Linked DNA regions of Homo sapiens. The protein of the gene in region 1 interacts with the protein of each later gene in a biochemical or structural test. Each region holds a gene or a part of one and is shown in the gene's direction. Other genes may lie near its edges.

Region 1 (7,023 bases):
CCCAGTAAGAGGTAATGAGGGGCTGGAACTGGAAGAAAACACATTTAAGACACAGTACAGAGGTGGCAGACAAGGTGGGACTTGGCAACTACCTGATGAGATCCAGGAGATGAGGCCAGGAGGCGGGCAGCAAAGATGACGCAGGTTTCTAGCCTTAATAGGCTAGGAGGAGAGTGATGCCATTAGCAATAAGAACTACAGGAGAAGGAGCTGAGTTTGAGGGAACTATTAATTTGGTTCAGAATATGTGCTGTTTGAGTTATGGCAGGATATTTAAGTGGACAGACTGTCGACATAGTTGGAAATTCAGATCTTAAGCTCCCACACAAGGTAGTGGCTGGACATAGTAGATTTGAGTGCTCTTGCTTCAGAGGGCTAGTTTAGGTTGGGGCAGTGATTAAAGCAACCTAGGAAATAAATTATAAAGGAAGAAGAGGTCCTTAAAACCTTGGAGACTGATTATATAAAGGGTGGATCCGTTAATACAGTAGCTATTAAAAAATTATAAGGGGTGGGAAAAAGGGACAAAGAAGAAAAAAGAGGTGAAAGACCTTTGCTGTGTCACCAAACCCTGGGAGGAGAATTTTTTAAAAGAAGAGTACTCAATCCACAGTGAACTAAGGCATGTTTGTTAAACACAATTGACCACCACACAGCGAAGACCCAAATGAGGTTCAAGAGAAGGAATTTTTATGGACCCTGTTAGCACAAGTCAAGGTCCTTCTCCAGTACCACTGGGAAGCTTTGGAGAAGAAAAGGGGGACAGTGGGCCTTGGGTGGAGAAGGGAACTGACCATGAGATCCAGGTGGGGTGAGGAGGTGTGTGAAGTCAGAGTGGGGAAGAATCAGGGTGGCTTACTGGCAGCTTCACCGGGGTCATGCGAGGAGCAGGTTCCACCAGAGTAAGGAGTGAAGTTGTAGAAACACAGGGAAGTCACCATCAGAAAAGAGCAGGAGTCAAGAAACTATGGCCCACAGGTACAAACTACCTGTTTTTATAAATAAAGCTTCATGGTAAATGAATTGTAAATAAAGTTTTGCATATTGTGTGAGGCTGTTTTTGTGCTACAGTGGCAGAGCTGTCTGGCCCTTTATAGAAAAAGTTTATCAGCCACTGGAAAAGAGTTGCAGGATTTGAGGTCTTGGTGTGATGGCCTAGGTTAGAGTCATAGTGAGATTGAAGGAGTAGCTAGACAAGCCAATTGTGTGGCAGAAAGGTAGGGATGGAGATCACTGGGTTAAGGATCCTTGTAGCCAGGACACCATGAGAGTGATTGACAAGAATGCTGAAATCCCCTAAGTGTGTCAGGATGTGGAAGAGTAGAAGGCTAGAGTTATGGAAGAAAGGGTCCCACCTCTACCTGTGCAGCCTCCAGGAGAGTCTGAGGAGGGGGCGGTGAGTGTGAGTAAATGTTGTCAGAATCCCTCCTCCCAGTCTACAAGCCCCAGGGAAAGGAAGCAAGGTGTTTACTGACACCCCCAGGCTTATAAGTACTTCCTGGCTCCATCACCCTCCAGTGAACAGCCCTGGGGAGAAGACAGTACTGGTTTGCAGGTGGGTGGGTGGGGAAAGGGGTCACAGGTGCTTGGTGTTCTGGTAAATGTGCATATGAGAACATGGGGTTGCTTGTGCCCTGTCCGTCAGGGTTCAGAAGAACGTGCAGTGGAAGCAGCTATGGGGAAGTAGCTAGGGAAGGTAGGACTGGTCTGAGGTGGTGAGGAGCAGATGCTGCCAGCTCCACACATCCAGGAGAGCCTGGGTGGTTTGGGCAAAAGTCTCTGGCATCCCTTCTGAGCCTGGGTACCACACTGAAGAGTGAGGACAGTGTGCCATTTTTATCAGGAAACCCTCCAGCTCCCTGAAGACCAAATTCTGATCCTCCTGGGATGGCAGTGAAGAGCCACAGAGATGACTCTGAGGTCCCGTGGCCTTTTCCCACCTGGAGATTGTTTTCGTTACTGCGCTGTTACAGCCTTGGAGGACTGGGGTTCAGTTTCATCCAATCACATTTCTTCTTTTGTCATAGTCATCTAAACGATAGATCTTAGAGACAGGTGGGCAAGGGGTGCACTGGTGAGCCTGACTTAAGGAGAGGTCATCTCGTCCCTTCCCTAGTCCCATCTCCCTTGGTTATTGTTATTTCATGTGATTGTTCTGGTTATTTCAGGTTATTCTGTTTTTGTTTTCAAAACAATAACATATATTTGTTGTTCTGATTTTAAAGGGGTAATTGTTTTGGTAACTAGAAAATTACCTTCTCAACTCCCTTAAATTCTGTCAAAGGGAAAAGTAAGTTAGGTTGCTGGAGAGGCTATGCTGAGGCCTCAGAACCTCTGTATTCCTGGAAGTTCTGCGTGCTTTGCCTCCTGCTCCCCTCTCTGTGTTCCTGTTGGCAGGCCCCTAGGCAGGATTTAGGAGGTAGGCAAGTCACCCTAGCCAAGTCATAAGCCCATGGCTCAATTGCCTTCTCAGCCCTTCAAGGGCTGTTCCACAGGCAGCAAAGGGAGGGGCCTCCACAGGTTCACCACTGCAGCCCTAATTCATTTTCTTTTTCCACTGTCTTATTCTGCAGGGGTATTCCCTCAGCGGATACTACACCCATCCATTTCAAGGCTATGAGCACAGACAGCTCAGGTACCAGCAGCCTGGGCCAGGATCTTCCCCCAGTAGTTTCCTGCTTAAGCAAATAGAATTTCTCAAGGGGCAGCTCCCAGAAGCACCGGTGATTGGAAAGCAGACACCGTCACTGCCACCTTCCCTCCCAGGACTCCGGCCAAGGTTTCCAGTACTACTTGCCTCCAGTACCAGAGGCAGGCAAGTGGACATCAGGGGTGTCCCCAGGGGCGTGCATCTCAGAAGTCAGGGGCTCCAGAGAGGGTTCCAGCATCCTTCACCACGTGGCAGGAGTCTGCCACAGAGAGGTGTTGATTGCCTTTCCTCACATTTCCAGGAACTGAGTATCTACCAAGATCAGGAACAAAGGATCTTAAAGTTCCTGGAAGAGCTTGGGGAAGGGAAGGCCACCACAGCACATGATCTGTCTGGGAAACTTGGGACTCCGAAGAAAGAAATCAATCGAGTTTTATACTCCCTGGCAAAGAAGGGCAAGCTACAGAAAGAGGCAGGAACACCCCCTTTGTGGAAAATCGCGGTCTCCACTCAGGCTTGGAACCAGCACAGCGGAGTGGTAAGACCAGACGGTCATAGCCAAGGAGCCCCAAACTCAGACCCGAGTTTGGAACCGGAAGACAGAAACTCCACATCTGTCTCAGAAGATCTTCTTGAGCCTTTTATTGCAGTCTCAGCTCAGGCTTGGAACCAGCACAGCGGAGTGGTAAGACCAGACAGTCATAGCCAAGGATCCCCAAACTCAGACCCAGGTTTGGAACCTGAAGACAGCAACTCCACATCTGCCTTGGAAGATCCTCTTGAGTTTTTAGACATGGCCGAGATCAAGGAGAAAATCTGCGACTATCTCTTCAATGTGTCTGACTCCTCTGCCCTGAATTTGGCTAAAAATATTGGCCTTACCAAGGCCCGAGATATAAATGCTGTGCTAATTGACATGGAAAGGCAGGGGGATGTCTATAGACAAGGGACAACCCCTCCCATATGGCATTTGACAGACAAGAAGCGAGAGAGGATGCAAATCAAGAGAAATACGAACAGTGTTCCTGAAACCGCTCCAGCTGCAATCCCTGAGACCAAAAGAAACGCAGAGTTCCTCACCTGTAATATACCCACATCAAATGCCTCAAATAACATGGTAACCACAGAAAAAGTGGAGAATGGGCAGGAACCTGTCATAAAGTTAGAAAACAGGCAAGAGGCCAGACCAGAACCAGCAAGACTGAAACCACCTGTTCATTACAATGGCCCCTCAAAAGCAGGGTATGTTGACTTTGAAAATGGCCAGTGGGCCACAGATGACATCCCAGATGACTTGAATAGTATCCGCGCAGCACCAGGTGAGTTTCGAGCCATCATGGAGATGCCCTCCTTCTACAGTCATGGCTTGCCACGGTGTTCACCCTACAAGAAACTGACAGAGTGCCAGCTGAAGAACCCCATCAGCGGGCTGTTAGAATATGCCCAGTTCGCTAGTCAAACCTGTGAGTTCAACATGATAGAGCAGAGTGGACCACCCCATGAACCTCGGTAAGAGACCACCCAGGAACTGTACCTAGGGTTGGGGTCAGGTGCTTTTGCTCCTGACGCAGTCTTGGCTGATTTGTGAGCAGTGCTGTTTGGTGGCGCCTATCTTTTCCTCCTTCCCTTCTGCCTTTTAGCTAAATTCCCCTTGATTGGCCCTTTCTCCAGATATTGAGCAGGGAATATAGACCTTGGACCAGCCAGAATCTTGGCTGAACAAGGGGGAGGTTGACTCTGTTGGCTGTAATGAAGCTTCTTTAGAAATGATTGGTTTTGGCCGTACGCGGTGGCTCATGCCTGTAATCCCAGCACTTTTTGAGGCCGAGGCAGGCATATCACGAGGTCAGGAGTTTGAGACCAGCCTGGCCAACATGGTGAAACCCTGTCTCTACTAAAAATACAAAAATTAGCTGGGCGTGGTGGCGTGCACCTGTAGTCCCAGCTACTCAGGAAGCTGAGACAGGAGAATCACTTGAACCCAGGAGGCAGAGGTTGCAGTGAACTGAGATTGCGCCACTGCACTCCAGCCTGGGCCACAGAGCAAGACTCCATCTCAAAAAAAAAAAAGAAAGAAATGATTGGTCTTGGGGGCCGGGGCGGTGGCTTACGACTGTAATCCCAGCACTTTGGGAGGCCAAGGCAGGCAGATCATGAGGTGAGGAATTCGAGACCAGCCTGGCCAACATGGTGAAACCCCATCTCTACTAAAAATACAAAAATTAGCTGGGGGTGGTGGTGCTTGCCTGTAATCCCAGCTACTCGGGAGGCTGAGGCAGGAGAATCACTTGAACCCAGGAGGTGGAGGTTGTAGTGAGCCGAGATTGGCGCCACTGCACTCCAGCCTGGGCGACAGAGTGAGACTCCATCTTGGAAAAAGAAAGAAAAAAGAAAAACATGATTGATCTCCATGCATCAATATCATGCCTGCCTCCTAAGGCAGAGGTAATGAAGACTTAATTCCCTTCTGTAGGCCTTCCCCTCCTCCCTAAGCCGTTTTCTGAGAGAGGTGCAGGAGCAGGTGGGTTGGGGCAGGCTGCATACACAGTGGGGGTGGGTTGTGCTGCTAAGCAGCAGCAGGTCCACAATCCCCCCTCTGCATAGCTCCTGGGGGGAAAGGATGGAGGAGCGTGTGCACGGCTGCCTGCCTGTTGAAGGTGGTGGTTCTAATTTTATAAACCTCCTCTGCACAGATGGGTAGGCTAGCACTTGCTGCCACTCCTGAGCTGTGAAGTCAGCCTTTACCTCACTCAGATAGCTGGTCAGGCCCTGCACTGTAGGTCCTAATAGGCCAGTGGACAGATTGAGGAAAACAGGAGCTTCTGAAGGGCATAACAGAGAGCAAAACCACTGAAGCTGAGTGGCTGCAGCTGCAGCCAGGGAAAGAGCCAGTAGGATGGGGGAGAATTCCACTGACCTTTATGTTTACCTAGCCTGGTTTCTAGGGGTGTAGATTCCTGGCTAGGGCCCTTATTCCTTGTCTTGACTGTCTTCATGACACCAATTTGGCATTTCAGGAGAGCGGTTAAGAAAAGGAGTTGTGTCTGTCCAAAAGCTGGCAAGGCCAGAGCTGGATTGTTTGGGGTAGAGACTGGATGGCCGTCATTCTCTTTTGCCTCCATCCCTCCTCCCCAGAGTTGGAGGAAAGCAGTGGATTTTGTGGTTAGTCATTCTTTGGACTCACACTAAAAGAAACATTGGTGCCATGTTCAAATATATCAGAAGACCTAGGAAATAAGAAATTTGACCTACTTTTCTAAATGAAATCCCAGACTGAGCAAAGAGCTCACCACATTTGAAAGCTTGAACAAAGGGGGCCTAGGCTAAGTCCAGAGGCCTAGAACAAATGCTTTTTTATTTTCTACATAACAAGGGGAAATTCCTTGTTATGTAGAAAATAGCTGGAGACAAATGGTGCTATAGAGTGACTCATAACAAACTACGGTGATATAGGTCTAGGGACAAAAGCAGGCCACTGATAAGTGGCAGATGCCTGATCCCCCTAGGTAGTGGGGAGTGTGAGACTGGGTTATAAGAAGCCTTCACTATCTTTTAGGACCCTCCCTTGAGGAGGCCAGTCTACCACAATTGCTTTAGAATGAAGGTCTTTTGGTTGCTCACAAGACTATAATGGTAATTTTTGGCTCATCATTTTTGTGTGTGTGGGTTTTATCTTAATTCATTGTTAAAGAGATAGTGGGTTTCCCCTGAGCTAGTTTCCTATCATCTGTGCCTATGTTTGCTTCACTGAGCTATGGGGAAAGAGTCACTGGCTGCTTTGTTTACAAAAAGAAAGGACAGGCTGAGCCTTAAGGAGTAGGAAGGAGTTCCTTGGCCTACCCTTCATCTCCACAAGTGAAAAGCCCCTTAGCGTAGCAGAAAATTCCAGGTTGAAGGTCTCTTTGGAGAAGGCAGAAGGAGTGACCTAGACTCCTGTTCACACATCTAATCACTTTCCGTCAAGATTTAAATTCCAGGTTGTCATCAATGGCCGAGAGTTTCCCCCAGCTGAAGCTGGAAGCAAGAAAGTGGCCAAGCAGGATGCAGCTATGAAAGCCATGACAATTCTGCTAGAGGAAGCCAAAGCCAAGGACAGTGGAAAATCAGAAGAATCATCCCACTATTCCACAGAGAAAGAATCAGAGAAGGTAGGTGTCCTCCTGCCATCTGGGAGGATCAGTTCCCTGTCAGTGTCTGGATTGTAACTGACTCCCTTGAGGCAATCCCAGCCTAAACAACTGACACCATCTCGGAGTCAGCTTCCCACTCTTCCCTCTACCCTATCTCGCCAGCCCACCTTTCCTCCTCTCATACCCAGCTCCTCTGTCTGCTCCTGTCCCAACATAATTGGATTTACAGAATTTCGGACTTGA
Region 2 (7,023 bases), on another chromosome or scaffold:
TTTGCTTTAAGTTAATACCATATTAGTATTTTAAATTTATAGAGTACCTTTGATTTCAAGATGCTGTATAAACTTTAGTTACTTGATAATAACTTTATTGTGGAATTGCCCCTTTGCTGAAAGGTATAAACATTTCTTACATGGTGATGCACACACTCACACACACACACTCACACACTCATACACACTCTCTCTGAAGAAGAGGAAATATTTAAGCCATGAGATCTCTGCCCACAATTGATATTAAACCTTTCCACATATTATTCTTAAAACCACAATCAGTGAACTGTTTGGTATTTGTCAATGCTAAGAAGGTGGGGCTAATTTAATAATTTGATCCCAAATTTTAGATTCCTCAGGCAGTTGGGGGTTAGAATCTGATTTCATCCATCAAGCTACTTCTGTTCTTTATGACACATTAACATATGATCATTGAAATGGGCTGTATGGTAACACTATCAACTTCAACTACTGTTTCTATAACATTGATTACAAAATGTATAATGTCTATATCATTATACTTATATCTGATACAGGCTTTTCTTTCAATGGTTTGGATAGAAAAATATTCTTTACAGTAAAAACTTTGGGATAATTTTTTATACCATTATTGTTTCTGAAAACCAAAGGCTGGAAAAAGCAGTTTAGTGTAATTTCTAATATTTTAAATTCTTAGGTATGGAGAAGCAGAATAAGATTACTCCTCCAGAACATTTGTTTCAGACCTTTTTATACATTTAATGTTTTTGTATGCTGCTTCTCATGTTATTAATTTCAAAGCCCTTGGCAATAAGGAGGTTAACCTTGTCTATAATGTAAGGAAGTTTAACTTTAAAAATTTCCCTTTAGATATGCTAGCGTCTTAATCTTGTTTCACTACATATTTTATCGATTCAAGGCTTTAAAAATTGTAGCTTAATTCTATTTCACAGGTTTTTAAGTATGCCTATACATCATAATGACTTTATTTATTTATTTTTTGAGTTGGAGTTTCACTCTTGACTGGAGTTGAAGGGCTTGATCTCGGCCCACTGCAACCTCCACCTCCCGGGTTCAAGTGATTCTCCTGCCTCAGCCTCCCGAGTAGGTGGGATTACAGGCGCCCACCACCACGCCTGGCTGGTTTTTTTTGTATTTTTAGTAGAGACGGGTTTTGCCACGTTGGCCAGGCTGGTCTCAAACTCTGGACCTCAGGTGATCCGCCCGCCTTAGCCTTCCAGTGTGCTGGGATTACAGGCATGAGCCACGGCACCCGGCCCATAATGACTTTATATACTAGAGGTGTTAGTGATTTGAATGTCCCCAATTTGTTTTATTTTCTTGGTTTCTGAGGAGGAAGCCAGTGTAGTTGAGCTCCTTCCTTTTCTTTTAAATTCTGTCTTCTAGTCTGACCCTCTTCAGGCAGGCAGTAGAACATGCCAAGGTCCTTTTTGTAGTTTGGTATTCGTAATAAAGTCTGTGTATTTTAGTCATCACTTTTACTTTTTTCTTGTTGGTTGAGCTATTACTATCACAACATACTAACATCTCATTTAACATAACTCAGTTTTAAAGATAAATGAAGGGTCATGCTTAGGCATACAAGATTTTTATTTTAGCCTTTTTTTTTTTTGAGGCAGAATCTCATTCTGTTGCCCACACTGGAGTGCAGTGGCAACAGCGTGCAGTGAGCAATCCCGGCTTACTGCAGCCTTGACCTCCCGGCTCAGGTGATTTTCCCACCTTGGCTTCCCAACTGGCTGGGACTACAGGTCCATGCCACTGTGACTGGCTGATTTTTTTACCTTTTTTTTTTTTTTCCAGTACAGATGGGGTTTCTCCAGGTTGCCCAGGCTGGTCTTGAACTTCTGTGCTCAGGAGATCCTCCTGCCTCAGCCTTCCAAAGTGCTGGGATTACAGGTGTGAGCCACCATGCCTGGCCTATTTGAGCCTTTTTTGGTGAGAGTCTTAAAGACGTAATATGTCCTCCTCTTTTCAAATAGACCATACTTAGTAGAACTTAATGTTTTATTCATGACTCAGTATAATTATGAATGCCCTCGCCCCTAGCAATACTTGCCCATCTTTTAAGGCTCAACTCAAAGATTACTGTTATCCCTAGAACTTTCCCTGACCTGAGTTGAACTGTCCTCTATGACTCTAAGAAGCTCTTCTAGTACCAGACCTAACCCACTGGTAGGCGTTTATTGTTCCTATGCTTTAAGTGCCATGAAGCCAGCATCCTTGTGTGAGTATGGATTAAGACCTTTTTGGCATTTTATTTAATGAATGCTGGAGAGCTATAAATACTTCCGAATAGTTCTGCATGTGTTCTTTATGGCTAATGCATTGGGTATGAGTGGCAAGAGGTGAGGCTCTAGACAGGGACCAACCTAGTTTGGACCTTACTGTAGTTTGCCAAGATGTTCATTTTTTTTAAGGTGGGGGGAACCATTGCAGGATTTTAAGCTTTAATATATTTGCTGTTTAGACACAATCTGGGAGCAGTATGGAGGATGGACTGGAATGGGAACCATGAAGACTGGTTTTAGGATAACTGGTTAAGCAGATTCAACAGCAACCATCGTTCAGATTTTTTTGTTTGAATGTTTATTTCCAAATTTTTTATTACAAATAATTGCTGTAAACATCTTGGTGTAGGTAACTTTGATTTTTTTTTTAAGGATTCTTTTTTTTTAGGATGCTTCCATAAAAATAGTGTTACTGAGTTCAAGTGTGTGGATATTTTTAAGGTTTCATGAGTAATTTTTCCTTTAGGCTGCTTCTTACAAGAGTTGGACCTATTTAGAGCAGCAGTAAATAAAGATGTCCCTTTTTACTATTCTGTTATAAGTATAAGCTAATTGCATTTTACATTTTTTGCTAATTTCATGGCATGTGCCATTTAAACATTCGTGAAGCAGAATATTTTCCTGTCTGTTTACTAATGATATTTATTTTCATTGACTTGTTTGGCCTTGTCCTAGTTATGTTAGAGCCTTAGTGTTTTTCTTATTGATCTACCTGAGACTTACAAATATATTAACCTGTTGTCATATTTGCTACAAACATTTCCATGATGAATTATTTGTCTTTTAATATTGTTCATTGTTTGGACATGTAGAAATGTGTTATCTTAGGAGTCAAAATCTGTCCAACTTTTGTTTTGTTTTTCCTATTCTATACTTGGAAGAACTTATTCTCCAAGAAGTTTGATAAATAAGTACATTATATTTAATGTTTTTAAAAAATGGTTTAATAAACTATTTCCCCTGCAATTGCTATTTAGCCATCTTGTCATTATTTATTAACCAATTCTTCCTTTCCACAGTGATGTAGTATCTTTTCAGTTATATTAGTTATAGAGTCAGATATAGCTCTTGTTCAGTGCCATACTGTTTTTTTTATTGTAGCTTTATAATTTAGTTTAGTATTCTCACTAGGCCAGTTTTTTAAAGAGACGGAGTCTCACTCTGTCACTCAGGCTAGAGTACAGTGGCGTGATCTTGGCTCACTGGAGCCTCTGACCCCTGGGTTCAAGTGATTCTCCTGCCTCAACCTCCCTAGTAGCTGGGATTACAGGTGCATGCCACCACTCCCAGCTAATTTTTTTTTGTATTTTTTTTGGGTGGAGATGGGTTTACACCATGTTGGTCAGATTGGTCTCGAACTCCTGACCTCAAGTGATCTGCCCACCTTGGCCTCCCAATTTCTTTTCATTTGTTTTGGTAGTCTTATTTTTTTCTTCCACATAAATATTAAACTTGTTAAGTTTAATAAGAAGTTTCATTGGGGCCGGGCATGGTGGCTCACGGTTGTAATCCTTGGACTTTGGGGAGGCTGAGGATGGTGGATCATCTAAGGTCAGGAGTTTGAGACCAGCCTGGCCAACATGGTGAAACCCTGTCTCTACTAATAATACAAAAATTAGTTGAGTGTGGTGGCACATACTTGTAATCCTAGCTACTGGGGAGGCTGAGTCACAAGAATCGCTTGAACCTGGGAGGTGGAGGTTGCAGGCGAGATCATGCCACTGCACTCCAGCCTGGGCGACAGAGTGAAACTGTGTCTCCAAAAAAAAAAAAAAAAAAAAAAAAAAGACATTTCATTGGGATTGTCATTAGAATTGCTTTACTTTGGGAAAAAGAAGTATCTAAGTTTATTTAGTTTTCTCACCCAGGAACATGATATGTTTTTTACATTTATTTAAGCTTTGGCCCATATTGTTCAGGATAGCTTTATAATTTTCTTCCTGTGTTTGAATTTAATTTCAGATAATTTATATTTGTGTGATTTACGTTGTGTTTTCTAATCCTAGTTATTGCTTGTATTTAGGAATGCAGTTATATGTATTTTGCTTGATTAGAAGAATTTTGGCTGGGTGTGGTGACTCACGCCTGTTATCCCAGCACTTTGGGAGGCCAAGATGGGAGGATCACTTGAGCCCAGGAGTTCGAGACCAGCCTGGGCAACATAGTGAGACCTCATCTCTATATTTATTTATTTATTATTATTATTTTTTGATACTGAGTTTTGCTCTTGTTGCCCAGGCTGGAGTGCGATGGCGCCATCTCGGCTCACTGCAACCTCTGCCTCCTGGGTTCAAGCGATTCTCCTGCCTCAGCCTCCTGAATAGCTGGGATTATAGGCATGTGCCACCGCGCCCGGCTAATTCTGTATTTTTAGTAGAGATGGGGTTTCTCCATGTTGGTCAGGCTGGTCTCAAACTCCTGACCTCAGGTGATCCGCTTGCCTCGGCCTCCCAAAGTGCTGGGATTACAGGCATGAGCCACCGCACCCAGCTGATGGCTGGTTTTCTAGGTGTCAGTGTTTGGTACTTGTTACAGTTGAATGTTAACACTTAAAATTTTTCTTTTCTCTCGGATTTCTCTCCAACATATAAGTAGTTGAACAAAGTGAGAAATTTTATTTCATTAAAAATTTTTTAAATACGAGCAGTCTTCTGAACAAGAATAGTTTCAGACCAACTCTGTTTTAGAATAGCTTCTGATGGCATTGGCTACCTTTTTTAAAACCACATTTGATATTATATTAAAAAGTGTCAACAGATAATCTGAAGTTTGGCAGTTTGGTTTGGTTTTGTACAAAAATTGGTAGCAGACATAAAGTTTAAATTTTTAAATAAACCTCGATGATTCATTTTTAGGGAGGAATTACCACGTGGATGATTGCAATCATGCAATGTTCTTCCCATTTCTTCCCAAAAAGTTTCTTCCCAAAACATTTTCTCTTACCTCTTTGTAGCCAGTTGTCTTCTTCAATACCGAGAACTTGTCAACCACTGATCTGTTTTCGGTCACTATAATTTTGCCTTTTCTAGGATTTTGAGTAAATGGAATCATACTGTCTGCAGTCTTTTGGGTGAGGCTTCTTTTAGCGTAATGCTTTTGAGATCCATTCATGCTGGGTATCAGTACTTTGTTCCTTTTCATTCCTGAGGAATACTGCATTGTACACCAATTTGTTTATCCATTTATAAATATCTGCAGACATTTGTTGTTTCCAGTTTTTGGCCATTACGAATAAACATTTGAGTACATGGCTCTTTGTGAACATGTTTTTCTTGCCCTTGGGTAAATGAGTGGGATTGTTGCATCATACAGAAAGTATGCATTTTAACTTTTTAAAAATCTGCTGGGCGGATTGCTTGAGCCCAGGAGTTTGAGACCAGCCTGGGCAACATGGCAAAACTCCGTCTCTACAAAAAATACAGAAATTGGTCGGGTGTGGCCTGTGCCTGTAGTATCAGCTACCTGAGAAGCTGATGGAGGATTGATTGGGCCTGGGAAGTTAAGGCTGCGGTGCTGTGCTCACACCACTGCATTCTAGTGTGGGTGACTCTGTCTCAAAAAAAAAAATTTTTTTTTTTTCAAAGTTGTACCATTTTGCATTTCTACCAGCATTGTATGAGTTTCAGTAGTTCCTCATCCTAGTCAGCACTTGATACTGTCTTTGATTTTAGCCATTCTAATTGGTAGGTACAGATATTTCATGGTACTTTAATTTTTACTTCCTTAATAACCTACAGTTTTAAGCACATTTTAATGGACTTATTTATTGTCCATATAATCTTTGGTGAATATCCAAATCTTTTGTTCATGTTTTAAAATTGGATTGTTTTCTTATTGAGTTTTGAGAATTCTTTATGTATTCTGGATATAAGCCTTTTATGAGATATATACTTTGCAAATATTTTCTCCCGGACTGTAGCTCCCCCACCGCCCCCCAAAAGATGTCCCAAAGAGAAGAAGTTTTGAATGCTGATGAAACCTGTTTATCAGTGTTTTTCTTTTGTGGTTCATGTTTTTTGAGTCCTAAGTCTTTTTCTAACCCAGAGTTCTAAAGATTTTCTCTGTGTTTTCTTCTGCATTATTTATAATTTTAACTCATACATTTAAACTTATTTTCAAGTTAATTTTTTAATATGCTGTGAGAAGTAAGTGTCATGATTTTTTTTTCATATGGATATTCTATTTTTGTAGCCCTATTTGTTGAAAATACTTTTGTTTCCTCCATTGAATTGTCTTGGCACCTTGGTAGAAAATCAGTTGACAGGCCAGGTGCGGTTGCTCATGCCTATTCTTTGGGAGGCCGAGGCAGGAGGCTCACATGAGGTCAGGAGTTCTAGACCAGCCTGGCCAACATGGCAAAACCCCGTCTCTACTAAAAATAAAAAATTAGCCAGGTGTGTGGCAGGTGCCTGTCATCCCAGCTACTCGGGAGGCTGAGGCAAGAGAATCACTTGAACCCAGGAGGTGGAGGTTGCAGTGAGCTGAGATTGTGCCACTGCACTCCAGCCTGGGCGACAGAGCGAGATTCTGTCTCAAAACAAACAAACAAACAAATCAGTTGACAGTATACATAGAATTCTATTTCTGGACTCTCCTGTGTTTTCTTTATGATTCTACCCTTTAAGTTTATTTGTTTTAACACTATGCTGTCTTGATTACTATAGCTTTAAAATAAAGCAGCTTTCAAACAAATTGAGTCTTTGATTTAGGATCTTGTAGTGCTTTGGAGCGG

The links. The genes of interacting proteins can lie anywhere in the genome.
Region 2: the proteins of ADAR (region 1) and SMURF2 form a complex in vitro, tested with the Homo sapiens proteins (one study listed by BioGRID).

What each region holds. Positions count from the first base shown.
Region 1 is NC_000001.11:154,598,177-154,605,199, reverse strand, and holds part of ADAR (double-stranded RNA-specific adenosine deaminase), read left to right. Parts: intron 1-2,573; coding exon 2,574-4,159; intron 4,160-6,614; coding exon 6,615-6,798; intron 6,799-7,023. UniProt on the Homo sapiens protein: Catalyzes the hydrolytic deamination of adenosine to inosine in double-stranded RNA (dsRNA) referred to as A-to-I RNA editing.
Region 2 is NC_000017.11:64,652,308-64,659,330, reverse strand, and holds part of SMURF2 (E3 ubiquitin-protein ligase SMURF2), read left to right. Parts: intron 1-7,023. UniProt on the Homo sapiens protein: E3 ubiquitin-protein ligase which accepts ubiquitin from an E2 ubiquitin-conjugating enzyme in the form of a thioester and then directly transfers the ubiquitin to targeted substrates.